Regions from separate parts of the Homo sapiens genome. Here region 1 is linked to region 2. Evidence: fine-mapped expression QTL. A gene starts in region 2. The other region holds a variant in brackets. All regions are shown on one strand. Distances are between the middles of the regions.

Region 1 (15,317 bases), 120 kb after region 2:
TCATTCCCATGCAGCTATTTACTGTGAGCCTGGGGGGGCCAGCCCCCATGCAAGCCCTTAGAGCAGGGCCTGCCATTCTGGAAGGAGCAGACTTTTACACCCTGGGCGTCTCGATGCACACCTGCTGCTGGCTCCCCGATGGCTGCCAGCCTCACCACTGGCTCTATCCAGGTCATCTAGTCAAGGCCTTGCTCCCTGCAGGCTTTGTCTCACCTTTGAGTCCACCAAGGACAATCTGGCTGCCCACAAGCCCATTGACCTGCAAACAAGTAGAGAAGGGAGCTGCTGGCAGGGGCTGGCTTTTGGCATGTGCTTCTGTCATCTTTAGTGACGTGCCTTTCCATCCCTGGGTCTCCATTTGCAGAAAGTATCTGGTCCACTCCTTTGTCATTGCTTTATCATTGCCACCCCACTGGGCCACTCTTGTCTGGAAAGCTGTGCCCTGACCTGGGTGGCTCCTGTGTTTCCAGAAGGTGGTGACAGACCAGAGTGAGTGGCCCAGAGGACATGGGGGACAGAAAACCCACCCCTGAAGAATGGTGCAGGATACTGGGGGTGGGGGGTGACCCAGAGGATGACGACAGAGGCAGGACACTGAAGTCATCTTATGGAAGGGGGAAGACTCAAGTCGCTGGGCTCCAGAGGGTGTCCTTGGTCCCTGAGGACAGGACGAAGAGGCCCACCCCACCTCAGCCAGATAAGGAACAGAGCCACTCATAGGGGGCTGGTCAGCCTCCAAGAGAGGTCCCCCTAGAGTGACCAGGAGGTTGTATAGACAGTGGTTCCCAGGATGTTTTGTTGGTTTGGTTTGGTTTGGTTGACAGCAAAGCCCTTTCTTCAGCAAAATCGTACCCAGTCTGTAAAAGAGATTGCAAGTGGAGCTGCTTTGGTTGACTTGGAGTGGAGGGGCCTCACAGCCCACCTACTTGCCTTCTCCCTTGCCCTCTGAGGCACCTCTAAGAAACTGCCAGGCCTTCTGGAGCACGGTTTTAAAACCACTGGGATAGATGCTATGGTCTTTTCCAGCCCTGAATTTTGATTGCAGATGATAAAAATTGAAGCCATGAGAATATTCCGCCAGCATTTGCCACGCAGGTGCAAGGCAGAAGCTGTCACCCTCAGGGTGGGCTCCCTCTCCCTGGGCCTCACCCTATGTTCCACCCTGCGAACACTGTGGGATTTGGTCCTGATGAAGATGCTGCCATCTTGTCAGGGATCCCCCAGTAGGGAATCTTCATCAAACTGGAATGTGTTTGGGTCTCACTTCAGAAGCCTTCGGAAGGCTGGGAAGGCTCTGGGAGATCACCTGGTTCACTCCCCTCATTTGACAGATGGGGAAACTGAGGCCAAGAAGGATGAGGGTCACATAGTGAATCAGGCTCAGAACCAGAAGTGGAGCCTAAGACCCCTGACACCCACCAGCGCTCTTTCGGCTGCTCACTCCCTGCAGTCTGCTCAGGGCCCTGTTCTTGGCTCTGTCCATGAGAACATCCACCCCCGCTCGGGGCAGGATCAGCGCCTTCTGGGTCTTTCTTCCAGCTGTGAACAGCCGCACACCCTCACACTAATGGATTTTGAGAGCCCCCTTTGTGACGCTCTTCCCAGCTGTCCCGCCCTTTTCCTGACACATCAGGCATCACGGAGCTACCGGGAGCCTCAGGAGAGAGACGTGCTGGTGAACAGATGGGCGTTAATTTGCTACTCTTGCAAATTAACCCTGGGTGTGAACTGGCTTCAGCAGAGATTTGAGGAGGCAGCGGCATCTTGGGGCGGCCTCTGGACCTGGAGATGGGTCTCAGGGACACGTGGCCGGTCCTCAAGCAGAAAAGTCCCAATGTCTCTTCTCTGCTGATTCCTGCAACAGCCAGGAAACATCTGGAGGTGCAGAGGCTGTGGGTGGAAAGGAGACTTGGAGAGAGGAAATGTGGAGGGTTCTAGAAATCAGGGGCAAGAGAGGCATGTGACCGAGGCTTCTGAAGAGTCAGGAAGGGCTGGGTTTCGAGGGGTGCGGGAACAGTGTGAGGAGAAAGGCTGTGTTAAAGTCAGGAGTGGACACTGAGACTTCCAGGAGCCCAGAGCTACTCTGAACCCACAGAACCACCAAGGGAGGTGTCCGTGGGACTACTGCTGGCTGGTGGAGCACAGGGCCCTCAACCTCAGAGGCCAGGCTTTCTCTTCTGGGTCTCACTATATCAGTTATAAATAGGATCATCTGAGTAACAGAGACTCAGAATAACAGTGTCTTAACACAGAAGCGTATTTCATTCACGTGAAAGTCTGCAGGCCAGGCATGGTGGCTCATGCCTGTAATCCCAGCATTTTGGGAGGCTGAGGCAGGCAGATCACCTGAGGGCAGGAGTTTGAGGCCAGCCTGGTCAACCCTGTGAAACCCCGTCTCTACTAAAAATATAAAAATTAGCTGAGTGTGGTGATGCACGCCTGTAATCCTAGCTACTGGGGAGGCTGAGGCATGAGAATCGCTTGAACCCAGGAGGTAGGGGTTGCAGTGAGCTGAGATCATGTCACTGCACTCCAGCCTGGGTGACAGGGTGAGACTCGGTCTCAAAAAAAAATAAAAAAAAAAAAAAGAGGTCTGTGGGAAGGTGGTCCAAGACAGATATGGCCTTGACTACAGTCACTTACTCCCTGTAGTCAAGAGCCCAGGCTCCTTCTGTTTTTCTGTTTTGTTGCTCTGCTGCACTTAGCCTACTTTTCAAAGCCACCTCATGGTCCAAGATGGCTGCTTCCGTGCCAACTATCACATCCTCATCCTAGCCAAGAAGGAGGAAGGGAAGAGGATAAAGAGGCAAAAGGAAGGCCCACTGCCTTCTCATTTTAAACATCTTCATCCAAATATAATTCACATGCCGTAAAATCCACCCATTTAAAGTCCACAATTCAGCCAGGCATGGTAGCTCATGCCTGTAATTCCAGCACTTTGGGAGGCTGAGGCGGGTGGATCACTAGAGGTCAGGAGTTTGAGACCAGCCTGGCCAACGTGGTGAAATCCCATCTCTACTAAAAATACAAAAATTAGCCAGGCGTGGTGGCGGGTGCCTGTAATCCCAGCTGCTCGGGAGGCTGAGGCTGGAGAATCACTTGAACTTGGGAGACGGAGGTTGCAATGAGCTGAGATCGCCCACTGCACTCCAGCCTGGGTGACAGCAAGATTCCATCTCAAAATAAAAGTTCACAATTCAGTGGTTTCTAGTATATTCAGAGTTCTGCAGCCATCACCAAAAAATCTAAGTCTGGAGTGTTTTCATGACTCCAAAGAGAAAGCCTACACTCATCAGAGTCACTTCCCATGTCCACCTCAGCCCTAGGCAAGCACTAAGCTGCTTTCCATCTCTATAGAGTTGCCTGTTCTGTTCCATTACATTTCATATAAATGGAATCATGTGACGTGGTTTTTCTCTGCTGGCCACTCTGATTTAGCATCATGTGTTTGAGGCTCATCTGTGTTGTGGCTGGTGGCGGGACTGCACCCCTTTTCATTGCCAAGTAGTACTCCACTGCATGGCTAGACCACAGTTTATTCACGCATTCATCGGCTGATGAACATTTGGGTTATGTCTACTTTTTGACTGTTAGGAATAATGCTGTTATGAATGCTCATGTGCGAGTTTTGTGTAGACACATGTTTTCCTTCCCCTAAGGTACCTAGGAATGGAGTTTCTGGGTCATATGGTCACTCTCTGTTTAACACTCTGAAAAACGGACAAACCGTTTCCCTAAGTGGTTGCCCCGTTTTCCTTTCCGCCAGTGTGTGCAGGCTCCAGGGCCGCCCCATCCTCACTGGCCCCAGCTCCTTTGTGAAGAAGGCTCCTGCAGCTGCTGCATGCCACCTCCACTAGCATCCTATGGTCCAGAAGGTGGTCTTGTGGCCACCCATAGCTGCAAAGGAGGCTGGAAAATAGTCTTTATTCCAGGCAGCTGTGCACACAGCCCAAAAGTATGGGTTCTAGCACTATGGAAAACAGGAAAACAGCTACCCTGGACACCATGAGCGAAGGCTGTGGCCCTCTGTACTTTCTGGATGCTCTCGGGTACCTGGACATTTCCCCTTCTAGATCCACAGAAATGGCCCAGGGCCTCGAACCTGCTGCTGCCTGAATGCTGGGCCCGCCCTTCCCTAGTCCAAGCCCTGCCACTGCTGAATTCTTTACAGGGCTGTCTCTGTCTTCCAGCCTACGTCCTGCCAGTGAAGCTGGAGATGGAGATGGTTATCCAGCAGTACGAGAAGGCCAAGGTCATCCAAGACGAGCAGCTGGAGAGGCTGACGCAGATCTGTCAGGAGCAAGGGGTAATGCACTGCCACTTTCGGCTCTGTCCGTGGTCTTGCTGGGGACACTGGTAGTGCCTAAAGCCATGGGTTGCTAGAGCTGCAGGGGCACCAGAGGTCAGGGAGTTCCTCCAGCCCCTTGTTGGACTCATGGGGAACCTGAAGCCCAGAGAAGGGGACACATCTCCAGGTTCACTGATGTATAGCCCAGCCAGGCATGGACTCAACCCTGACTCCCAGGCCAGGGTTCTTTCCACTGTAGCACGGTGACTCTTCAGCTCCCCAACCTGAGTCTGCCAAGTCGCCCCCTCAGTTCATCAGAGTCTTCTCGGAGACATGGTCGGTCTCTAAAGCCAGTCGCTAATTCTGTCTGCTGAGGGTTGCTGGGCACCATGGTATGCCCATTGCCACGCGGGACGCCCAGGGCCCCAGAAAGATGCTAGCGGTGCTCTCTACCCTCCAGGAGATGTGATGCAGACTCAGAGAGGCAGGTGGTGGGCCCTGCAAGGATGGGCTCAGCAGAGGCAAGGGGGACTGGCAGCTGGGCCAGGGGCACCCTGTCGGGAATCCAGAGACCTGCATTCAAGGCCTAGCCCTGCTGCTCCCACCCCGCCGGACTCCGGCCAAGTTGGGCCACCCCTCTGCCCTCAGTTCCTTCCTCTGTAAGATGAGGTGGCTGCTCCCATGTGAGTGGGACAGAGGAGTTCAGAGGAGGGGGATTGGGGTACTCAGGAGGGGGTGGCTGCTGGATCCCGCAGCAAGGCTGAGAGCTCTGTAGAAGTGCAGCTCGGTGTGCAGGGAAGGGTCCGGTCCCAGGCTGTAAGGTGGGAATGCTACTGAGGGGACTGGCAAGGTGGTGGGAATGTGGGGGATGGTCCAAATGACATGCATGGTCATTCCCATTCTGCCCGATGGATTCTGGGGAGAGGACAGGGCCACTGCCCCCAGCTGCGCAAGCCAGAGACGCTAAGCCTGTGGCTCTCTGTGCCCAGGGCCAGGCGAGTTCTTCACGGGCTGTCTTCCAGCCCATGTCCTGCCAGTGAAAGTGGAGGAATGCCCGTGGCCGCATATTGATGTGGGCACTGAGCCCTTCTGGCTTGCAGTGCGGTGAGGATGGGCACCCCTGGGCTCCCTATTCCTCCCCCATTGCTGGGTGCCCAGGCAGTCTCCAAGGTGGCCTCAGGGTTGAGGTCTCATGTGGCGTACAGGCCTGCTATGTGTCTGCCCGTCCTATCGACCTCCTCTCTCATGTGTCTGGTGCATAAACACCCCGACTGTGCCAAGTGGAGTCACCTGTCATTTTGACAAGCCCTGTGCCATGCCACCTCTTGGGTTTTGGTTGCGCTGTGCCCCTTGCCTGAATCCCCGCCCCTTGCAAGCTCTGTCTGTCTAATTCAAGTCCTAGCCTCTCTACAGAGCATGTTCCCCCCGCCAGTAGCCTCTGCACCTCCTCCCCCAGCCCTGCAGCAGCCCTCACTTGTCCACATTCACAGGGCACTGGGCACTCACTGCCATGGTCAGTGCTCCTTTATGCCTGGGGCAGCTCTTCCCGCTGAAATAGATGCCCCCTGAAGGCAAGCCTTAGTCCAACTCACATCCGGCCCCAGCCAGCACTCCGCGCGTTGTAGGTCTTGGTCAATGTGTGTTCAGTGTATGTCGTGGGTCTTGGTAAATGTGTATTCTGTTGCGGGTCTTGGTAAATGCATATTCACTGTACCTGTTGGCTCCTCGACCAACCCCAGCCTCTCACAGTTTTGGGGTGGGGGACACGTCTGTGGAATGTCACAACAAAGTGATCCTGGGAAATGTCCCCACAGGAACACGCACACAGTGTCTTCAGAATCATCCCCTCGGAATGTCTGTCAGGAAACCAATCTTTTTATCTGCTTTGGGAACACTATGACCTTTTGTTTCGCACAGAATGCCTATGCGTGACAAGAGGGGTCATCAGGGGACATGGCCCTCAGGGGCACGTTGTCCAAGGTGTCCCGAGAGCAGGGCAGGCTATGGAATCCTAGACTAGGAAGAGAAGCATTCCCTTCCTGAGGAGCTGGCATCAGCTTCATTCATTCTCTTGCCATATCGCGTGGTTAGCCAGCACCGTCCAGAGCTGCTCTGTGCTGGGCTTGTGCCGGGCATGTGGATGCCGCCTAGGACAGGGTGTGACCCTCGTCCTCACGGGGCTCTGGGTGACTCAGGGGGTTTGGCAGCCCATAAATAGGCAGTGGAAATCTGGTGCAATGCCTGTATCACATGGGCACGTCCCGGGCTCTGCAGGCCAGGATGGGGAAGGCTTTCCAGAGGAGCTGATGTGGAGCAGAGCCCTGGGGAGAAGGCTGCCAGGCAGAGGGAACAGTGTGGGGTGTGCGAGTGGGTGCAGTGCCCCCGGGGTTCGGGGCCATTTAGAGGGTGAGCAGAGGGAGGCAGTAGGATTGGGGACAGGCTTGGGAAGGGGCTCTGTGGCTGACCAGAGAGTTTGGGCTTTATCCTGCTGGGACAGAGGAAGCCTGGAGGATTAAAAGCAGGACTGGGGGATCTGCTCAGATGTGAGTTGTTGATGGAGCCTTCTGGCTGCCGTTGGAGGCTGGATGGAGAGGGCAGGGTGGAGACAGGAAGACTGGGGACAGAGGCTGGAGAAGAAGGTGAGAGAAGCTGGGCTTTAGGCAGAGGGGGCTGCAGGGAAGTGGGGAAAGTAAAGTGCAGGGTGTCATCCAGAAAGCGACTGGAAGCCGATCAGGCAGTTCTCATTCTGCTGTTGAA[C/T]AGGAAAACAAATGCTCTACTTCACTGCAGTTGGCAACGTGAAAGACACGGACACAGGGCTGCATCCGCCCCTCATAAATTCGCAGCCTCCCAGCCCAGCAGGGAACGCGCTGACCCTGCCGCACACCTCACCTCAGCCACACATGCGCCACGTGGCCAGGAGAAAATCCTAACGGCAACCCCACCTCCCAGGGTTTCCACCATGACCTCTGTCCGGAGCCCCCCGGGGACCCCAGGTTCCTGCCGTCCTGGTTCAAGTCACCTCCACATGTGGCCTCCTTCCCGGGGGTCTCAGCCGGAGGGAGACTCCCTTGCATTCTGCACAGGAAAGAGCCAATAAATAAAGACAGATTCCCTCTAGGTAGCGACATCTGGAAAAGAGATGAACAGAAACGAACCATTTTAATTTAAAAAACACCTGAAGCCTGTCATCTTAGTTAAGACAGCAGAAAGGGCCAGACAGGCTGGACTCCCAGTGGGGCCACCGGGGAGGGTGGGGGCTGCCTGGCCAGAGGGACCAGGAGGGCAGCTCTCCTGGAGTCTGTGGTGCCCACTCCACAGAGCGAAGCAGACAGATGCCTCACTTGCAGCTGTATTTTCAGACCTGGTTTGAGACTTGACTGGGTAACAGATACCCTGGAGGAAATGAGACTGTGGGCCCTGGAATGTCAGAGATGGCTAGACCCTTGGAGACAGCAGCCCATGGAATGGTTGAGAATAGACTTGGTTCTAAATAGACTTTGAGCTGGCTTCGAACCCAGGTGTGTCTCTCTTTAGAACACTTACTGGCCTTGTGGCTTTGGGCATTAATGGGACATCTATGGGCCTTGGTTTTCCTAATCTGAAAAATGGGTGTAGTAATAGAATCCTCGAAGGATGGTGATGAGATCGTAGCCTAAAGCCTGACACATGATGGGTAGCAACTAATGGGTGTGGACCCCGAAGTCCACCAGCCCCACCACACCTGCCCCACACACCCATTTTACAAATAAGAAAACTGAGCAGTGGCAGCTCGCCTTGGGGGCACACAGCTAGTCCAGGGGGGCATAGAACCAGGTGTCCTAACTGTGAACACTGTTCTTTTCCAGCCCATCACGTTGAGCCTCCTTTTTCCTACTCATGGCACTTAGCACTCAGCAAAAACATTGATCAGATTATGCATGGGGTATTTTATACTGCAGGCACAGACCTGGCTCCCCTCAGCTGTCTCAATGGCAGCCCCCAACCCCGTTCCAGGACAGTCTAGTATTCCTTGTGACAAACTCTTGCTGTCTCCTTGCTGGAATTCTCAGAGTATAATGAAGACATTTCCAAACTGAATTCACATATGCTGCCTGAAAAATTGACATTTACCAATGAAATGTGTTAGGGTCCCAGTTTAAATACAACACCTGGCCTGGCGCGATGGCTCACACCTGTAATCCCAGTGCTCTGGAAGGCTGAGGCAGGAGGACTGCTTGAGGCCAGAAGTTTGAGGCTGCAGTGAGCTGTAATGACACCACTGCACTCCAGCCTGGGCCACAGAGCAAGACTGTCTCTAAAACAAAACAAAACAAAACAAAACAAAACGCTTTTCACTCCCTTGCTCTCTTGCTGGGGTGTGTTTGTACAACTATTTCAACTATTTGCCACAACTTCACCCAGCTCTTTTTAAAAAAATAAACTTTATTTTTTAGAACAGTTTTATATTGACCAAAAAATAGTGAAGCAGGTGCAGAGTTCCCTGTATCCCTTGTGCCTGGCTGCCCATCATTAACATCATACACTAGTATCATTTGTTACAATGAACAAACCCACATTGATACGGTACTCAGGTTTTCTTAGTATTTAATCTGTTATGTCCTCTGTTTGCTCCACGTCGCATTCAGTAGGCTTAGGCTCCTCCTGGCTGTGGCAATTTCTCAGACTTTGTTTCTGATGACCTGAAGGGTTTTGGGGAGCACTGGTCGGGTGTTTTTGTTTTACAGGATGCCCCTCTGTTGGGATTCGTCTGATGTTTTTCCCAGGGTAAGCCTGGGGTTGTGGGTTTTGGGAGGAAGACTGCAGAAGGAAAGTGCCATTCTTATTGTCTCACATCAAGAGGACACACTGGCCACGTGACTTCTCACTGTGATGCGGCCTGGATCACCCGGCTGGGGCAGCGTGGGTCAGGTGTCTCCACTGCACAGTTACTCTCTGTTTCTTCATCTTAAGCTTTTTTTTTTTTTTTTTTTTTTTTGGAACAGAGTCTCACTCTGTCACCCAGGCTGGAGTGTAGTGGCGCCATCTTGGCTCACTGCAACCTCCACCTCCTGGGTTCAAGAGATTCTCCTGCCTCAGCTTCCCGGGTAGCTGGGATTACAGGCACCTGCCACCATGCCCAGCTAATTTTTGTATTTTTAGTAGAGACGGGGTTTCACCATGTTGACCAGGCTGGTCTCAAACTCCTGACCTCAGGTGATCCACCCGCCTCACCCTCCCAAAGTGCTGTGATTACAGGCATGAGCCACCGCACCCAGCCCATCTTAACTTTTTAAGAAAGATTACATTGCTTCTTACCGTGACCCTGTGGAGACTCTCAGGTGAGCCTGTTGGCCAGTTTCTTGCATGAATATCTGATTCATTTCACCTTCTGTGCTACATGGCAGTTCATTTCTTGTCACAGGCCCACATGCAAGGTGCTCCAGAATCACCTTATATAACAGATGAAAGGTCCCTGGGGAGGGCAGCTGGCCCAATCCAGGATTTGGCAGATGGGGCATCTGAGGCTCAGAGAAAGGGAGAGGTGGGCCCAACGTGGCACAGCAGTTATGAGGCCAGGACGAAAACAGGTCTCTTGTTGCTCATTCCAGTGCCTTCCCTCCTGGATCACACTGGCCCTCTGGCTTTGACAGGGAAACAGGCTTCACTGCTTCCCTCATTCCTATGATCTCTTCTGGTTGTGGACACACCTCATGCTTAACAGATTCCTACTTGGGGAGGGGTGCCTAGAGGATCCCGGGAGGGGAGGAGGTCTCTCTGCTGGTCAGTCATACCATTCCAAAGCCCTGGCCATGCCTTCTGCAGTCCCTTCCAGACTCCCCGCTGCTGTGATAGAAGCACATGGCTTCTGACCCCTGAATTCAGCAATTCCTCAATTCCTTAGGTGGAAGTTCTTTTCCATTCTTTTTGTTTGTTTGTTTGTTTTTGGTGAGGGGTGGATCTTGGCCAGAATTTCATGACGAGTTAGGCTCGCTGGTACACAGATGGAGTCCAAAGTCACGATGCTAGAGGCTGCCCTTCAGAGAGACGGTGTGGATGCCTTGTCTCTCTCTCTGTCTTGGCTGCTTCAGAAACCAAAGCCATTTTAGATGCAGCAGTTAAATCAATGCAACGATATACTCTTCTGACTCATCTCACGAAACCACCTCTGAGGTTTTATGTACCTCCATGCGTGGGATCTCGCTCTAGTTCCGAAACACATTCTGAAGTCTCCGTTACACCCGCTCTTTCATGTTTAAGCCTGGTAACAGCTTTTGGTACAAAATAGTATGATCTGACCTGGCCCACTGTGGAAGTTAGTTTCTCTTCTCTGACGTTCTGCTTCCTCAGCACCATTCACCCTGAGATCATTGGCAAAATACTGAGGGATATGAGGCTCAATCCGGGGTGACTCAAGGTCCAGCCTCCAAGGAGACCAGTGGGACCTGTGAGCCCCTTAGGACATCCTTAGACCTTGGGAAAGGTGAGTCCCTTGTCGGGGAGCTTGGAGGAGTGGAAAGAATCCTCTTATTCGGGGAGCCAGCAAGCCAGATTCAAACCTCAGCCCCACCAGTGACCAGTCATCTTCCCTTTAACCCCTGAGCCTCAGCTTCTCATTGGGGAAATTGGAGGTAACAAGGCCTACATCGTGTGGATGCCATATGCATCAAATTAAATCTGGCCTGCTGGAGGCTTTCAGTAAGGGTTAAAAAAAAGAGAGAGGTCGGGTGCGGTGGCTCACACCTGTAATCCTAGCACTTTGGGAGGCCGAGGCGGGCAGATCACGAGGTCAGGAGGTCGAGACCATCCTGGCTAACACGGTGAAACCCCGTCTCTACTAAAAAAAAATATATATAAAAAATTAGCCCGGTGTGGTGGCGGGTGCCTGTGGTCCCAGCTACTCAGGAGGCTGAGGCAGGAGAATGGCATGAACCTGGGAGGCAGAGCTTAAAGTGAGCCGAGATCATGCCACTGCACTCCAGCCTGGGTGACAGAGCGAGACTCAGTCACAAAAAAACAAAACAAAACAAAACAAAAAAAACTACTAAATGTATCTATATGATGGTTGCTCATTCACAAATGCACTGTCATGTTTTAGCTCATTTTTCCTTTGCTGGTGAAAGTTGGCAGGCTGGGTACTATTAATCCCTTCACATGGAAAGACTGAGGCTCAGAGAGGCTATTCTTTGGCCAGATCCTGTAGTTTTTCATGGAGGGACTAGGAAAGAAACCCAGGGCTTCAGTGTCCATTTCCCTGCGCCAGAAAGAGGCATCTGCCTGAGTCACTGATAGTTAGGGTGAGTAACACCAGTTGTTGCATCCAGCAAATCCAGAAATCTGAGTCCTGACACAGGAGGAGTACATTTGTCACTCTCATCATACTCCAATGCAGGTTGCAATGGGGCAGGGTGGAGGGACCCTCTGTTCCACACAAGTCACTCAGGCCTCCAGGCTGCTTCCATTTTGTGGCTTTTTTTTTTTTTTTTTTTTTTTTTTTTTTGAGATGGAGTCTCGCTCTGTGGCCCAGGCTGGAGTGCAGTGACATGATCTCGGCTCACTGCAACCTCTGCCTCCTGGGTTCAAGCGATTCTCCTGCCTCAACCTCCCGAGTAGCTGGGATTACAGGCATGTGTCACCACCCCTGGCTAATTTTTGTATTTTTAGTAGAGATGGGGTTTCACCATGTTGGCCAGGCTGGTCTCGAACTCCTGACCTCAAGTGATCCACCCACCTCGGCCTCCCAAAGTGCAGGGATTACAGGTGGGAGCCACCAAGCCCGGCCGATCCTTCTTCCTCCAAGTCCTCGGAGTCTTCTCCAGTCAGTGGATAGGAAAGTGAGGCTGGGGAATTGGGCACAGCAGGTTTTTATTGGCCAGGACTGAAAATGGTGATATTGCTCTGCCCCCGTTTTATTGGCAAGAGTCAGTTGCACAGTACCAACTAGGGGCACCAGATGCTGTCAGAAGTGGTCTTTGTGCCCAAGAAGAAAACAGTCGCCTGCACAGTCACCCAACCCATAAAACAAGGCCAATGGGCTCACAACATTCCCTACCCTTTCCCCGGTTCCACCACAGCAGGCGGCACAGCCACACTTATCAAAGTCCTTCCTGGGGGAATGCCATGCCTCCCTGGCCTGTTTTCCTGAAGAAACAAGATGATAATCTTGACCCTGCAAGCTGTAGGCATTTCTGATGGAGGAAGATGTGAGGAGAGGAAGCTGTCACGCCCCCCCTCCATCCCCTTCGCTGTCTTTCACGTGGAGGAACCGGAGCAGACGTGGGAGGTGGTGGGTGGTCTGATTGGGAGCCAGGGCCCATCTCCCCATCCAGGCCTCTCGCTGGACCCCATTGTCCCCTGGTTTTCTGGACCCCTGAGAGAATGCCAACGGCTCTGCGTAGGTCACTCGCCTTTGAGGCTGGGCTAGCAGCTCAGAAAAGGGGCCAAAGGGCAGGAATAGCAGGAATAAAGCCGTGGTTCCATGCTGGCTCCAGGGACGGGGCTTGAGGCTGGCTCATTCCAGAGAGCTCCTTCTTTTCCTACAGAGGCCACAAGTTCCCAGCTCAGCACAATAGCCTTTGTTACCTGGATTATTCAGGATCTCCACTGTGGGAAGTGAAATTTTTTTTAAGATGGGAAGTGATTTGTAAAACAGCCGATAGCTTTAATGACAAGCCTATTTAGCTGATAAAATCAGCCATCAGAGGAATAACTTATGTTATCCTTTTGCCATAATTTAAATTTATGGCCAACTACCAGTCATCTTCACAGTGGATGGAAAGGGGCCAAGGTCGATCTCAGCTTTACTCTGCTCCTAAATCATTAGTTTGCAACTGTCTCCTGATTTTTATTGTTACCAACAACGGTGAAACTAATGGAAATAAACATTGGATGCTATCCCAACAGCAGATGGGTTTGAAGGCAGGGCAGCCTGTGCAGACAGCACTAATAGGATGGAGCAGAATTACTGCTATTGCATTAGATACCATCGAGCTTCTGGCCAAAGTGTGCATTGATCAGGACAAGGCCCGTGTCAATTGGACTCCACAACCGGACCATTAAAGGCGGAGAAGCGCTGGGTGTGCCCGTCCTGCCGCCCCGGTGGGTCTGACCCCTCCTGGGCTTGCATTAAAAGCCCGGCCCCGATGGAAGGGGCCTGACTCACTCCAGTAATGCATACTGCGGGCTTCCCTGTGGATCCCAGATGATCTGGGCAGGTTATCTGATTAGAAATACTTAGCTAATGATGTGCACTAAATGGGGCTGTGACTGCACTTTAATTCTTCCCAAGCCTAGGGATGGTCTTTTTTTCCCACCGGGCCCATTTGCCAATGGAAGATTTGCTTCATCGGAGCCACTGTGCACCTTCTTTTCCTAAGGCACAGGCCCGTGTGAGCCCTGGGGAGCCCCGTCCTGTTGTGTTTCTTCCTGTTTTCAGCAGTTTGACTGCAAGGTGCTTCTGTGTGGATTTCTGTGGGGTTTTTTGGTATTTATTCTGCTTAGGAGTTTCTTAAATTTGTGGATTGATGTTTTTTATTAGATTTGGGAAGTTCTTGGCCATGGTTTCTTTATTCATTGCACCTGTCTCATTCGTCTCCTCTTGGAGCTCCAGTTGTACCTGAGGCCATTTGATTATGTCTCACGTTTCTCTTAGATCCTACTCTGCTCCACTATTCATTCTCTCTCTCTCTCCCTGTCTCCTTTTTTAATGGCTGTAAGTTTTGATGTTTTTCTATAGACCTGTCTTCAACAACCCTACTACGTCCAATCTCCTGTTAAACCCATCCAACCAACTACTCAATTTCAGATACTGTATATCAAGATTCTAAAAGTTTGATTTGATTCTTTTTATAGAGTCTAACTCTCTGCTGAAACACTACGCTCATTTTGTCTGTCTTTCTCCCCTATTTTTGTTCACATATTAATTGTAGTTATTTTGAAGTCCTTGTTTGTTCACTCAAATATTTACCCAGGTCAGCTTCTATTAACTGTTTTATGGCTTGATAACCACATGTTTTTCTGCTTACTTGCATGATGAATGATTCTCATGGTGTGCTACACATCATTGATGATGCATTTTAGAGGCTGTGGATTCTGTTATCCTTCTCTGAAGAGATGGTTCTCTGGGAACGGGGCATTTTGGCAGGGAGTAGAGGATGGCCCTCAAGACAGCAGCAAGCCTTAACTGCACTTACACTTCATTCCCTCCAGGTGGGGTCCTGGAGCTGGTACAGAGCTCGTCATTGACTTGGAATTCAGTGAGTCCATTTGCCTTATTGGACACACAGTGAAACCAAGGCCCGGGGAAGAAAAGAGGCTCACCCAAAGTCAGGGCAAGGGAGGGGTGATGGGCCAAGAGCTCAGCCTCCAGCCCCTGCTTTTCCCTCTGGTGACTTTCTGTTCTCCTGGCCCCTGCTACCATCAAGCTGCCCTGGATTCTGTTGGGCTGAGTCACTTCCATCTTGCTTATAAGGCTGCAAGTTCCCTGGCTCAAGGTCTTGGGGGCTAGAAGCCAGGGGCGTGGGCTGTGGCCCCTGCTTTGCTTCTGAAGCACCATGTGGTCCTGGCCTTTCCCCCATCCTCCCTCCCAGCACAGGAGGCTCCTTCCCACCTCCGGGCCTCAGTTCCCCATCTGACTCATGAGGCCCCAATGTCCTAGGGCCCCTGGGAAACACTGTGGAGGCACATGTGGCCATGATAAGCATAGGAGGAGCCAGGAGCCCAGCTCTGAGGGTCCCGCTAGCACCTCCTGAAGTTCCCCTGGGCTGTCCCAGCCTGTGACTGGGCCAACAGCCATTTTGCCCATGTGTGCTTCCCCTCTGAGGAGTCAGTCATTCCTTCTCAGGGCAAGATGGACAGCTTCCAGTCACCCCACACCCTCTGGGTGTGAAGCTTGCCAAAATCTGTCCCCTAAGCAGGTTGTCCTCTCCCTCACCGCCATTCCAGTCCATGCCATGTGCTGATATCGCACCTCCGAGGTAATTCTCTTATCCCTCCTCTTATCTCTCTCTCCACCTTCGTCCCTACCTACTTGTCTCTGGCATGGACTGCTGCA
Region 2 (15,317 bases):
GTATCTACCTTCAAATTTGATGCTGGTTCTTTATTTTTCTGATTCACTTTTAGTCTGTTAGAAAGTAAAAAGACAAATTTTCTCCTTTATGTGAAAATAATCGTAGAATCATAAAAATTTAGAGTTAGAAAAAAACTTAGAGAACTTCTAGATGAAGTAAGCACAAGTCTCTCTAAATTAGAGACTTTGATTTATTTCCCTTACTCATAGTTACAGAATGAACTGGAGCTGGAACTCTGGAATCCAGAATGTTTTTCCTACTACTTAATGATTCCTCAAACTTATTTAGGCACAACTTTGTGTACATACGTGAGGCAGTGAGGCACCAGCGTTGAATTTAAAGTCTCTGAATCACACTGCCCAAGTTTGAATCTTGGTTCCTTACTAGCTGTGTGATCTTGAGCAGGCTACTTAATCCCTCTGTGCCTCAGTTTCTTCATCTGTAAAATGACATTAATAACTATAACTCCCCAATGGGACTGCTACAAAAAAAATAAATTAGTATATATAAAGCACATAGAATGGTGTCTGACATATGGCAAGTATTCCATAAATGTCAGCAATTACTAGGATTCTATCAATAACTACATGGATATGTACTTGCTAGGTTTTATTTTTACTTATTTTTTATTTTTTGAGACAGAGTCTTGCTCTGTCTCAGGAGCAGTGGCACCTGGAGCACAGTGGCACAATCTTGGCTCACTGCAACCTCCGCCTCCTGGTTCAAGCAATTCTCCTGTCTCAGCCTCCCGAGTAGCTGGGACTACCAGCGTATACTACGACGCCCAGCTAAGTTTTGTATTTTTAGTAGAGACAGGGTTTCATCATGTTGGCCAGGCTGGTCTCAAACTCCTGACCTCAAGTGATCTGGGATTACAGGCGTGAGCCACTGCACCCGGCCTGTACTTGCTAGGTTTTAAAATAGCTTAATTATACCACAATTGGAATAGTGGATCATTTTTGTTTTCAATACATGTATATGTACTCGCTGATATTCCATTTTGGCACGTGAACTGTGTAGCCAAAGGAATGGTTCTTCATAGAGTACATGCAAAATTCCAAATATCAAACACATAACTGAACTCACTTAAAAACTGAATACCATTCACGTGGTGATCATTTGGGCCCATTAATATACTTAGAACATCTGACATCCAGAGGGATTTCTTTCTTTTTGAGATGGGGTGTCACACTGTCACCCAGGCTGGAGTGCGGTGGTGCAACCTTGGCTTACTGCAACCTCTGCCTCCCAGGCTCAAACCATCCTCCCACCTCAGCCTCCCGAGCAACTGGGACCACAAGTGCACACCACCACATCTGGCTAATTCTTAAAATATTTTTGGTGGAGAAGGGGTTTCACCAGATTGCCCAGTCTGATCTTGAACTCCTTAGCTCAAGCGATCTGCCCGCCTCAGCCTCCCAAAGTGCTAGGATTACAGGTATGAGTCACTGCACCCAGCCAGAGGGATCATTTTTGTTTTGTTTTGTTTTGTTTGTTTTTTGAGATGGAGTTCCGCTCTCATTGCCCAGGCTAGAGTGCAGTGGCACGATCTTGGCTCACTGCAACCTCCGCCTCCCCGGTTCAAGCGATTCTCTGGCCTCAGCCTCCTAAGTAGCTGGGATTACAGGCGCCCACCACCACGCTCAGATAATTTTTGTATTTTCAGTAGAGACAGAGTTTCGCCATGTTGGCCAGGCTGGTCTCAAACTCCAGACCTCAGGTCAGAGGGATCATTTTTTTATTACCTCTTCCTCTATGTGATAAAATTATTTTTCAGTAATAATCATGAAATGAAACAATAGGAAAGAGACAGTGGAAATTCAACTCCACTTATATACCAATAGAAAATAAAGTAAGTATTATAGTACAAAAAAGGAAATTGTAATGAAATTAACATTTTCAAAAAATAAAAAACACATATGCCAATGTACTGGTTTGTTTGCAGTACTAAATAACATTACACCTCTTTTCTTGATTTCTTTTTTAGTTTTGAAGCAACTATTAACAATGAAAAAAGAAAAAAATTCAAAGTTAAATGTATTATTTGAATTCAATTATTCAAGAGGGGGCCGGGCACAGTGGCTCATGCCTATAATCCCAGCACTTTGGGAGGCTGAGGTGGGTAGATCACTTGAAGTCAGGAGTTGGAGACCAGCCTGGCCAACATGGTGAAACCCCAACTCTACTGAAAAAAATACAAAAATTAGCAAGGCGTGGTGCTGGGCGCCTGTAGTCCCAGCTACTCGGGAGGTTGAGGCAGGAGAATTGCTTGAACGGCGGAGGCGGAGGCTACAGTGAGCCCAGATTGTGCCACTGCACTCCAACCTGAGCAACAGAGCAAAGCCCTGTCTCAAAAAAAATTATTCAAGAGGATAATTCCATGAAACAAAAATATTATACCTTAAAATTTACACTATGTTTCACTCTTAAATTTCATAAACAAAAACTCTAAGTGGTCACATAGAACAATGTTTAAGTAATCAAGTTCTGTCTCTTCATCCTTAAAATCACTGTGCTACCATTGTTTACAAAGAATCTACTGTTTAAATGCAGGAATATGGACCACCAGGGTTGCGAACATGAACTGTGCCTTAAATCTTGAATTACCCTGAACTTTTATGAGTTTACTTGGAAATATATACAATAGCTGGGTCCATGTTTGTTGAAGGACAATTGTATGAGTGGGAGTTCTCTAAATTAATTTCCATGTAGAATATACTGTTTATTAAAAAAATAATTAAAATGTGCTGATTTGAAGTTTAAATTCATATACTAAAACTTAACAGAGACTACAGAAATTGTTTAAAATCCAGATCCATGAGAGATTTTTCATGGAGGACTATTTTATTATTGACACAGTTTAGAATTACTGGTACATAAAAATTACTGGAAATAAAAAACAGACTTTTAGTGGGTTTACTGTAGTTTAAATTCTCTACAGATAATGAGAATTACTATTGTCCATACCCAAGATCTACTGTTCTTATTGCCCCACTCTTGGTATGCCATTCAAGGTAAAATCTGCTCTAAGTACTATCTTTGAAGATGGGCTTGCTGCATTAAGTATTCTTAACCTACTTAGGAGAAAACTTTACAATTAATTTTTATTGAGAGCCTACTGAGTCCATGGTATTGTATCCACACAGACTGCATGCACATGAATGTCGCTAGTTACTAATCATATTTATTTGCTAAAGTCATCTCAACAGGATTTTTTTAAAAAAAACGATTTAGCGGCCGGGCGCAGTGGCTCACGCCTGTAATCCCAACCCTTTGGGAGGCCGAGGCAGGCAGATCACCTCAGGTCAGGAGTTCGAGACCAGCCTGACCAACATGGAGAAACCCCATCTCTACTTAAAGAAAAAAAAAATACAAAATTAGCTGGGTGTGCTGGCGCATGCCTGTAATCCCAGCTACTCAGGGAGGCTGAGGCAGGAGAATTGCTTGAACCTGGGAGGCGGAGATTGCAGTCAGCCGAGATTGCGCCATTGCACTCCAGCCTGGACAACAAGAGCGAAACTCCGTCTCAAAAATAAATAAATAAATAAATAAAAATAAAATTAAATTAAAAAATAAAAAACGACTTAGATATTGTATGTACTCAAATTTAAAATAAATACCACACAAAGTCACATATATTCCATTTTTCAGGCTTTTACCAACTCAGATTGGCTTTCTACCTGTACATTCCAAATAAGTGAGGTTATATTATAACATTTAGAAGAGCTTTCAAAATATTAACATTTATATCACATTAACAATTTAAGGACTTTGGGCATTATTCAAATTTTCACAAATCACATGGCATCAGATTCACTTGTTCTATTTTCACAAGCAACTATCTCAAGAGAACAAAAGCTTTAACTCTGCTACCAATCTTTTTCAGACATTCACAGGATCAACATCATCTCTAATCTATCCTCCCATAATCTTGCAGCTACATACATGTACAAATTTTCCATTTATGTGATCCTGGTACTCTTGAAAAGGCAGTCTTTTTAACTAAAAGAAAATCTGACTTACCTCAAAAGGTATCTTGGTATGAGAGAGAATGCCAACTACAGCCACGTTAGAAACGAACAGTTATGTCTGGCAAGGAAGTGATATACCAAGCTTAAACCCACAGTTCCACTTCTGCTTTACAGCTCTTATACTTTCCTGTTGCTACTAAGCTCCTTTACTCACAAAATTCCTCTCATTAGTCACCTGCAGTGTACTGAAGCAGCACCTGTACTATTTATAGCTCTAGGATTCCCCCACCCTCTCCTGTCAATAAGAATCACCTGGGGCAGTTAAAAAAAAAATCACAAGTCAACCCCCTGATATTAGATTTCAAGGTGTTTGAAAGGAGGCTCCAGAATCCGATTTTTTTTTCTAATCAGCTGAATTTATGACTCACAGAATCTGATTTTAAGCAAGTGTTCCCAAGTGAGTCTTATAAGCCAGTTAAGTTCAAGAATAATGCTCCAAGTGAAAGTGAGATCTGTGGCAGATCTTCACAGTTCCTCTAGCCTCATCAGCCTCAAGGGCTAATCCTCCTCCGGTGTTAGGCCTCAGGGTATTTGAAAACAAGAGAAGGCCCAGTTTGAAGAATGCAGAATGGCATCTCGTCCACACTTAAGTTTTCAATACCCTAAAAAATTTATCGAAGGGAGATTTTAGTTTGGGGAGGTGCTGTGAAGTAAGACATCACCAGGGGGCAGCATAGAGTTGACAAATTATACATGTTTTGGGATTTTTGACTTCACACTACAACATGAAATGGTTGCACCTACAATTTCCATTAACTCGGATTACTCAGAAAAGGACAAAACCCAGAACACTTAAGACACACGTAAACTTTATTAGCATGTAATTTTCAATACAATGGCTATTATATTATAAATACATAATATAAATATTTATAAATATAAATATTTTCTACAATGGCTATTATACTATAAATAGCCATTGTAGAAAAAAATGTTCCCTTGAAGTCGCATGAACCCGAATTCAAAAAAATTTTATTAGGATACAAAGATTCCTGGTAGAAATTTGAAGTGGTCTTCAAATTTCTCTCAGCAAGTTTCAAAATACTTGTCGTACTCTGAGAGTTAATTAGCGTTATAACTGGATGCTTCTCAATAGTTTCAATCAAATCTTAAGTAGAGTTCTACTAAGGTGGAAAATGGAGTGGATAACAATCTGGGCAAGCTATGCCAAAGCTTTTTCTAAAGAAAGTGTACCTAGTTAAAATGCTGTCACTGACTGTCAGAAAACTATAGCTCCCCTCCCGTGCATCCTCCATTAATTTTTCTTAACCCATCTCCACTTTCTCTATTCTAGTCCACATTTCTTCCGTCTAGAAATGTAGAAAAATCCTTTGGCAACCCAGGTAGCTTCCACAAGTATCATCTCCAAGTGTTTCTTCCTCTGAAATTCCACCATTAGAGATTAGAGATGAGTAGGAAATGCTGAAAGGCGAAGGAGGATCTGAAGAAATTTTACATTTTTTTCTCAGTTTGCCAAAAGTAGATACTCCCTGTATAGATATTCCCGTATAATCCAGGGAAGGTAGTCCAAGACCGTGGGGCAATTCCAAGAGGTGGTTTTGAAGTCCTTCAACTCTACCATTTTCATTTTATCCATACTAAAAAAGCTACGGCAGGAAGAAAAGACAAAGGACATTCCTGGGAGGCCAACTGGACCTAATCAAATAAAAACACTTTAGAAGAGGTACAAGAATCAGAAATCAAACCTATCTGCAGAGCCAAAAGCCATTCTGAAACTCCGTGTCCTAGAAACAAGGGTTTCCCATCTTTTCAAATATTTTAAGATAAAAATCGCAACACCCTATAGGAAAATGGCTATATTTTTAGCAAGAATTGGTGGAGAAGACAAACGATAATAAGCTACTATGAATCCAGAAGCTGCTTAAATGGCCGTATTCACAGCAGCCCTTGCAAACATTAATTAGAGTAGTACCCATTATGGGTGAGGACTTTTTTTTTAACCACAGAGAATATCTGTGGGTGCATCCAGATTGCTCAGTGGTTCCGTTTAACCCACCCGGTAACTGGCAATCATGGCCCTAGGACAGGCTTCTCCACCGGGGCGATGCTGCCTCCAAGGGGCGCAATGTTACTTTTTATGCATCAAGCACGGATAACACATACAGCACATAAGCAGGTCGACAGTGTATCTGCGGTACTGGGATTTCACGGGGAAAGGAGATGGGGACGTGTAAAAAGCCTTTTTAAGAGTCAGATAACGAAAAACGGAAAAAGAGGAGAAACACGGTCCTACAAGGGTCCTGAGCTGAGGCCATCAAATGAATGTACTGACAGGTATTTTTCTCCCAGGCAGCCAACTGAGAGTCAAGGCACTCTGACCGTGCTATGACTCCGGCCACACAGAAAGAGGTGTTTTCCCCTCGGTGGCCTCCAAGCGCAGCGGGCACTGCGTGCCATCCGCTCCCTCACCGGGCGCCCCGCGCGGATGAAACGGAGCAACTGGGAAAGAGCTCTGGAAACTGCAAAGCGCTGCGCCAAAGCGACGGGAGGTTCCCATTCTCAGCTGTACGAAATCCCGCGGGGGTCCTCCGCTTCCCCGAGCGACGCCCTCGGCCTCCGCACTTGTTGCTTCTGCGCCCCGCCTGCGTCCCCGTCAAACCCACCCTTCGCGGCCCCCTCGCCTCTCCACACGCTCGCACTCAGGCCCCGACCCTGCCCCGCGACCCCCTCACCCACGCCACGAAGCCCGCTCTGCGTGGCAGCCCCGGAGACAGCCGAGCCCCCGCCTCCGCCCCCTGCCCAGCTCAGGCCGCCAGCCCCTGCCAGCCGACGCCGCGGTTTCCTAGACAGCCGCGCCGCCGTTCCGCAGCCTCGGGGGCGCGCGCGCGCGGCCGGCGGGAGGCGAGGGCGCAGGCGCGGGCTCGGCCAAGCCGCCGGCGCGAGGCCTCGCGCGCGCCCCCGAGCGCGGTGGGCGGAGGGGCGGAGGGAGCGGCGGGGCCGCGAGGGGGCGGGGGGGCGGAGAGGGGAGCCCCGGGAGCGCGAGCCGCGGCCGGCGCCGCTGCAGAGCCGAGCGAATCCCGAGCCCGGGCAGCAGGTATGTGTCCTCGCAGCCGGCCGCGGCCAGAGCTTCCCCTGCCTCACTGCCCGAGTCTTGTGGTCGGGGCGGGGGGTGGGGGGACCGGTCAAGGTTTGCAGGATGCGTGCTCGGAAGGGCTGGGATCTTGCCGCTGACCTTCATCCCCCTGGCCGGGGGAGCCAGGCGAGGGTGCGTGGGGCAGCCCAGGGCTTCAGCTCCAGCCTGGAGACCTGCTTCTTGTCACATGCTTCTTATTTATTTTTGCAAACTGCCCTGGTTCGGGTCCAGCTGCAGATGCCTTACCTCCCATTCTTTGCCTCCGTGTGCCATCTTGCATTTATTAATAAAACATGCAAGCTGGAGGGGGGGGTTGCTGCTGGGGGGAATCCCATTGCAGTATGGCAAGCGGGCGCCTATTTTCGGTTTTCAGACGTGGTATAGAGGTGGAAATCCCACACCCTGAGGATTTGTGGCTTGGTTGGTCGTGACCACTTCCTAGTGGGCTTCCCCCGTTTGTCGGGAGGTGCCCCAGCGGCAGAATGGGCTGTCTGGAAGGGATGGTGGGTCTTCACCGTCAGGCCAGAATCCCCTTCAGGGGACAGGTGCAAGCTAGGGCAGGCAGTTCCCTGCTTGCTAACTTGCCAGGGAGGCTTAAACCTAGAAAATTGTCTCCCTTGATGGCCGAGAAAAGATGGCCTTCAACAGAATCCCTGGGACTTGCATACTCAAACTCATTACGGTTTTGCATCTGAACATGACTAAAGCTAGCCACCTGTTGGAAGTCAGACCCCATGAAACACCCCCGTAATCTAGCTCACCCATCCCTGTTTCACAGTCACCAATACTGAGCTAGCAATAGGCCCATATGGGTTCCCTCTATCCTCTTTAATGCTGCTTGGCTTTTCTTTTAAAATAAGACCTACCTATGATTTGATGCCCTATATGTGAGAGGTTGAAATTATATGATTTGTTTATATTCCATACACCTATCACATCATATCCTAAAGACTGAATTTCTCTTCAGTGCATGTGTTTATTTCCCTGGCTTTTCACCTTGCTTTGAACAACAGTGGGAAAATGGGATGTATATAACTGCTTACCTCCTCCCCCAAATACCTCCACCCTAAAATATTGTGATGAAAAGAATAGTAAGAGCTAGAAGCAAAAAATGAAAATGGTTATCACAAGATGTTGGGATATGATAGCTGAACCGTAATTGCTTCTAAAATGGTCAGAGTGTCACATCTAATCACGAGAAGGACATGTTTCTTAAATGTTCATATGTACCAGGTACTGAGCTAAAACTATTTGTGTATGAGCTCATTTAGTCCTCACAGCAAACCTGCTATGTCCATGTTGAAGATGAACAAGCCAGGACTTAGAAAGGTTAACTAACTTGCCCAAGGTCACACAGTCAGGGACAGGGTAAGGATGCAAACTCAAGCACATGGGGATACTGGAGGTGGGGAGCCCTGAGGGGGCTTTTCCTCCAGGTGCGGCTGCTCCGTGTACCTTTTCATTAAAATCAAGCTTATGCATGAGCATGTTGGCTTGGGTCTAATTTTCCATTTCATAGATTCTGCACCAACTTTGTGGCTTTCCAGTAAGAAAAGCAGTTGTTTCAGAATGGATCAGTATGGAATTTTTTGAGGTGGCACTAAACCTATAAAAAGTGGGGTCCAAGATGTGCTTCCATTTAATTCTCACACACAAGGAGTTGAGTTTAAAAAGTTGTTTCCCTCCAGATTTAAACCCATAAAACGTATATGCATTAAGTAGAATGAATCACTCCCATTTTCCATTATCGCATCCCACCCTACCCTCCTTGCTGCCCTTCACACTATCTTCTGGTCTCACTGCCAGTCATCAGAGCAACATTGTCTATCACACTTGCCTGTGAGTGCCTTAATGGGAGGAAGGAATCCATCCGTACCAGCCGTGGCTCGTAATCCAGTCTCTCTATGATTGTAGCAATTATGCATTCAAAGTTCTTGGAATCTCTGCATTCAGCTATGGATGTGTATTTAATCATTTTTTTAAAGTGCATTATTATAATGCAGGTATTGGATTTTGTTAAACATTCCTAGCAGTTCTCATGGACTTAGAAATTGCTGTAGTTGCATCAGTGAAAATTCACCCAGTGGGGCTAATAGCTTTTCTACTCAGGTCACATAGTTGAGATAGTGGTGAGAAAGGTATAGGTGAATAGAAGGAATTATTTGGAAAGTATATCCCATGCAAATAACAGCTTTTAATTATAAATTGATGAATAATATTAAGTAGGAAATATAAGACTATCTCTTTTAATTTTATAAGCTCTGTTTTTGCCTTGGTCAATGTGATTGGTTTTAGAGCAACATGATGTTACCTTTTTCATTACACTGTTCTTTTGAAACAGTATAGCGGTTTGTACATAGTATTCTTGCCTCGTGGGAAACACTCAGTTTAGGAGGAGCACATTCCCTGGTGTTTACAGAAATGCTGAGACAGGATCTTTCTGTCTTGGGGATTTCCAGTCTATGATCAGATAAACTCAAGATGAGTCCTGATGTTACTGGGCAAGAAGCAGAAAGCAAGAGGTGTTACTTGATTTCTGGGGAGGAAATGAGTTTTCCTGTGGGGAGCATCACTATCTTCTTCAGTTGGGAATCTCATGATTGAAGAGTTTGAGAAACGGACTAGTCTGCTGTCTTCCATTCAAGCAGGATTTCATTTAATGCAGAGCTGAGAAGGCTTTATCGTGCAAAGGCCAATTCAGGAAATATAAAAGTGTTTCTGGACTACTTTTTTTTTCTCTTAAAACATATATTTAAACTGGGAAAGTCATATGGGAAACTATTAATGCTTAAGCATTATTTGTTTTTATTCCCTTCACGAGAGTTTTTGGGAGAGTGGGGGAAAAGTTTTCCAAGCTATGAAACTCACATGTCTGTGGTGACTGATTATAATGAATATTTTAGTACATTGTTGAATAAGGCACTAAAACTGGGATATTTGTTTTTCCTTGATCGACCTTGTAAGCTACTTCATTATGAAATGTGTTTTTTCTTAAAGTATTTCTTAATTTAGTATTCTTTAAAATGAGATTTTTATTCAGTTGTCGACAGTCTTGAATCACAAAAGTTCACAGATTACTTTGAAATACTTGATTTTCATCAGTCTCTGTTTCTTACTATGGCTGTCGTGTGCTGTGTCCTGTGATAGGAAGTTTCACATCTCATATTGCAGTGACCACCCTTTGTGGTCAACTGTTTATATGATAAGAAGTGGGGGAGCCCAAGGTATATGACCTAAGGGGCAGAGCCAAGATTTGAGCCCAAGTCAGCATAGCTCAAACTCTGGGCTCATTGCCTTTTGCACCCTGACTGCAAGATGAAGCACTTTCTGCCCCATAGTTCTCTGGCCTCCCATCCTATTCTGCTCCATCCACACTGGCCTCCTTGCTGTACCCCCTGCCCCAGGCCCTTAGCACTAATGGTTCTCTCCCCTGGAATACTCTTCCCACAGGTATCTTCATAGTCCCTCGCCTCATTTCAGCTTTGCTCATAGTCCAACCACTCCTTTAAAACTATCCCCACTCCCACAGCATCCTTTCCTCCTCCCTGTCTTGCTTTTATTCGTAGCACCTCCTAGCCTACTATATTAATTAGTTGTTAAGTGTATTGCCCATCTCCCCCATGGAATGAATGCTCCAAAGGGCAGGGGTTCTGTGTATTTTGTTCACTCCCCCAACTCTGGTACTGTGAAAAAAGAATCAACAAATCACTATGGTATCCTTGAATCTTTCCAGCTTCCCACACTTTTTGTTTTTGTTAGTCCTTACTGTTCTCTGTAGTGAGCAATGAAACCTCTAAAATGCAAAAGCTTTATGTGTTGTTTGGGGGAACAGCAAGAAAGTAGAGAAGAATCGGGAAAGATCTGGCTTACTCTTGAGCCGGTGTTGGGAAGAGAGGAACCTGTAAAGATGGGGAAAAAGTCACCTGAGGGTTGGGATGTGTGACGAGGCAGCAAATGGTACGTGGGGAGATGGCCTGGGATGGAGAAGAGATCTGTGTGGGTTCCCTTGTAATGGGAATGCATAATGTTTTTGAAGAACTTCCAAAGGAGACTCTGGATTCCTTCAGCCATCCATCAACTCTCCCAGTGGCCTGAGTCACTAGAAAGGAAAAGGAGCCTACGGTCATTCCTACTGGCTTTTTACACAGACAGGTGAATCCTTGCACTGCCTGCATTATTAGCCTGTTGCATTTTTTAAACATTAAATACCTGTTGGTGTCATCCCTGTTTGAGCCAGGGTCTGAGAGTTCACTGCCAAAGCACTTACCCCATGTGTCTGAGAAGCATCACAGCCTGAGATGTCTTTGGTGTAAGCAGTCCCAGGAAGGACTCCACATATATCTTTCATTCATCTATTGTTTGCAGTAGTTCTTGGGCCGTAGCAAAATCATAGGCACTTTGAGGACTGATTCATCTGCAGAACACTTTAGAATGGACTACACTGGGATGCTAAAGGGAGTTCATGGTTATGGAAAGAAGCCTGGGAGAAACTGCTCCTCAGCCACAAAGGCCTCCTCTCCTCCTCCCGGATGGCTTTAATTGCTGCCCTAGGCAGTCTGAATTACCCGCCAGGAGAGGATTTCCCCTTCAAAAAACACAGCCTCCCTAAAACTGCTTTTGATTTGTAATAGAAACTACTTAGTAGCTAGGACAGAGGCTGATAACTCCTATTCCCAGAACTCATTAAAACAAGGAATTTTAATAAGTATTTTTGCCCTTTGCAGCCCAGGTTTTTGGAAGTCCAGGCAGCTGTTCTCTAGATTTCACTGTCAAGCCGTAATGCATGCAATGCTTCAGCTTCTTTCCCTTGGCTCAAAACAGGTCTGAAGCAAGTTATTTTATCTACAATTCCCTCACACCATCCCACCCTGGTTACACAATTGCCATTTTCTCCAGCCAATACAATGCATAAGGCCAATTAACCTTCTGCCCATGACAGTTTCCTTTGAAATAGTCAAATCTTTGTACTTTACCTGAATTTGATGCAGGGCTTTTAAAAAACAATTTCTATGACAGTTACTAATTCTCCTTTAACCATGACTCCTAAAATTTGTTAGCTTTGCCCATCAAAACAAAAGAACAAGGTGAAATATATTGCAATTCCTCAACAAAGAAAAAGTTCCATTGTTTTGGGACACAGTCTCAAAAGAAAAGCTTGGAAATTTCTCTCCCATTTCTCCCTGTCTTTTAACTGTCAGTTTCTATGCAAGGCTCTATCACTGCCCTTCTTGATACCCTGCAAGGAGCTCCTGCCCCCACCCCTCTACTGAAACAGAACTCTTAAAGGTCACCGGTGATTGCCTAATATAAATCCAATGGCTGTTTCTCAGATTTCGTTCATGATGGCTCAGCAACATCTGACCCCATTGACTTCCTCTACTCTTTGAAATGCTGTCTGTCGGCAGCTCCTTCCTAGCGGTGTCCGTGTCTATCTGGTCTCTCCTCTGCTGTCATCCTTCCTGTTCTATCAAGAGGCAGTCTGAAGTGGTTAAGAGTGTGGGCTCTGCCTGTGATGTGAATCCTGGCTCTAGCACTTGCTAGAGTAGCTTTGAGTAAGTGATTTAACCCTCGTACCTCAGTGTCCTCATCGGTAAAATGGGGAGAAGAGTAGCTACGGCAGAGGATTAAATAGTATGCTTAGTAAAGGGTAAGCACCCAACAAATGCTATTTTTTTTTATCATATAACTTCCTGTGTACATGCCTGTAACTTTAGAATAAAACCCAAATGCCTCCCTCTAGCCATCAGGACCTCTAAGATCTGGCTCTCGTTTAGTTTGTTTATATCTCAGACCCTCCCCAGTGTGCGTCCACTTCTGAGGCTTTGTCCCGCGCACTCCCCACTCAACCACCCTCACCTCTTCCTATTCTGCCCCTCCTTCCCTGGCCAGAGGAGGGAAGAATGCCGAGGGGTGCCCCTGCCCAGGAGCCACCAAGCACAGCCTGCTTTGTAGCAGAAGACAGCCTCCCTTGGGCATGGAGCCTGTCTCTCTCAGACAGAGTATGAATTACTTAAGGGCACCAGCTGTGATTTATACTTTTAAAAAATATCTTCCTCAGCATTTAGCACTATAACTTTACACATAGTGGGAATTTAACTCATATCTTTTAACTGCCAAAACATTATGGTTTTACTTGGCCCTTCCAAAATCCTTTTTCCTCCTAAATTGAAACCTGTATTGATCAGTCCTGGAGCTCATGTAAGCTTGATACGGGATAATTAAGTCAACACCACAGGGAGAGTTACCCATGTCAGAACCTTCTTGGAACGAGGAGGGATATATAGAAATAATTAAAATAATGAGAGCACAGGGAATAATTTAATGCTTTTAAAAAGTAGCTTGAAATCCTACCAACCTATAAAGCTGTTAGAATTTTTAAGAAGTGTTTAGAAGTTTTTTCTATACTCTCTACTCTCAGAATAAAATGAGCTGTAAAGCTGTGAGTATCAAATCTATCAACCCTTCAGACCTTGCTATAGGCCTGCTCTGGAGCCACTGTGTTCTAGTCCTGCTTGCTTTCTCCTTCCTGCCCTGGTGAAGAGGGCATTGAAGTTGGATGAAAATCAAAGGAAGGGCTGCCTACTTAAAAAAAAAAAAAAAAATTAACCCCTTTATTGGCGTTGTGAGTTGGCCTGGCAAAGACAGCCTAAGTTTTCATCGGCATCTGCTGTGTGTGTCCCTGGGGTCATGAAGAGTGCCAGAGCTGTGCTGCCAGTATAACAGCTTCCCACCCCACAACCCTGGAAGCCACAAAGGACCATATGCTTTGCATCTTGACATTCTGTAGCAGAGTTTCTCAACTTCAACACTGTTGACACATGGGGCCAGGTGACTCTTTGTTGCAGGGGCAGTCCTGTGCATTGTAGGATATTTAGCAGCATCCGTGACCCTTACCCACTAGATGCCACCGGTACTACCGCGATTACCCCCCGTCCCCAGTGGTGACAACCAAAAATGTCTCCAGAAATTGCCAAATGTCCCCTAGGGTGCAAAGTCACCCCCATTTGAGAACCGTTCTCCATAGGATCAATACAGAAAACTCAGCATCTTTCTAGTTTGAAGAATACAGAACTTAGATAATTTGGGTCAAATGAAGATGAAGATTGGGTTATAATATACATGAAAGGTAAATTTGGGTTTGAAATTACACAGACAAGGAAAATTTAGACTCTATAAGCAGTTGTAGATTATATCATAAATAAGGAGATGTAAACAAATTACAGAAATGCAGACCATCTTCTTACTCCTGAAGGCCTCGGGTCTAGATGCAACAGCACATTCTGGGACTGTTAAAATCATCCTTGGGGCTGGGTGCGGTGGTTCACGCCTATAATCTCAGCACTTTGGGAGGCCAAGGAGGGCGGATCACCTAAGGTCAGGAGTTTGAGACCAGCCTGGCCAACATGGAGAAACCCCGTCTCTACTAAAAATACAAAAAATTAACTGGTGTGGTGGCACATGCCTGTACTCGGGAGGCTGAGGCAGGAGAATCACTTGAACCCTGGAGGCGGAGGTTGCAATGAGCCGAGATTGCGCCATTGCACTCCAGCCTGGGTGACAGAGCAAGGCTGCGTCTCAAAAAAAAAAAAAAAAAGAAAAGAAAAGAAAAGAAAAGAAAAAGTCATTCTTGGGTTTTTTTTTTTTTGGCATTGTATTTAAGAGCTTAAAGTATGCAATAACACATCCTGTGACTGTTAAAATCATCCTTGGGGTATTTTTTTGTGGGGGGCATTGTAATTTAAGTGCTCAAAGTACTTGTCGGCCTTTGACAATAAGTATATCAAACCAAAAATAATTAATATTTCTGGAGAAATCTGAAATATTTGATTATGACTGGAGGGAATTATATTTGACCTGCAAAGGGCCAGCTCTCCCCACCAGAGCCTGCTTCTGACCATAAAGCCACTCTAAGACAGCACTCGCAGGTGCTGCATAAAGTAGGACTGACAAGGTACTTTGTGCTTTGCTGAAAGGCCACAATTGCTCAGTAATCTTCATGGCTCTTAGAAAATTTAGCTGGAGACTTGTGATTTAAAACCCACCTCCAATTGACAGTCATCATTATGTTCTTTCTAAATGCAGTAGCAGAAATTGCATGCCATACCCAAAGGCTAAAAGTGACAGTTAAAATACATGCTTTCTGAAAAACTTTAAGGCCCCAACTTTGGGAGAGACCTGATTTGGCCAGAGA

Alleles and levels. Alleles are on the strand shown, and positions count from the first base shown. SD is a standard deviation of normalised expression in the study named.
For the expression in visceral fat of the gene that starts at base 7,056 in region 2, allele C in region 1 goes with a lower level than allele T (small effect, 0.22 SD a copy in GTEx).

Evidence for each region.
Region 1: its variant is fine-mapped to the expression of TMEM266 in visceral fat (GTEx, PIP 0.94).

Annotation. Positions count from the first base shown.
Region 1 is chr15:76,171,369-76,186,685 of GRCh38, forward strand. TMEM266 (transmembrane protein 266) reads left to right here. Exons shown (of 11, transcript NM_152335.5): 8 at 4,191-4,306. It overlaps LOC101929439 (a long non-coding RNA gene), which reads right to left and starts at 10,118. Exons shown (of 3, transcript NR_120360.1): 1 at 9,584-10,118; 2 at 7,178-7,416; 3 at 3,523-5,102. RefSeq lists enhancers at 10,209-10,258, 10,469-10,518. The variant C/T (reference allele first, on the strand shown) is at 7,046.
Region 2 is chr15:76,052,930-76,068,246 of GRCh38, forward strand. TMEM266 (transmembrane protein 266) reads left to right here and starts at 7,056. Exons shown (of 11, transcript NM_152335.5): 1 at 7,056-7,087. It also overlaps a transcript of NRG4 not described here. RefSeq lists enhancers at 4,166-4,215, 4,276-4,325, 4,516-4,565 and a silencer at 6,049-6,098.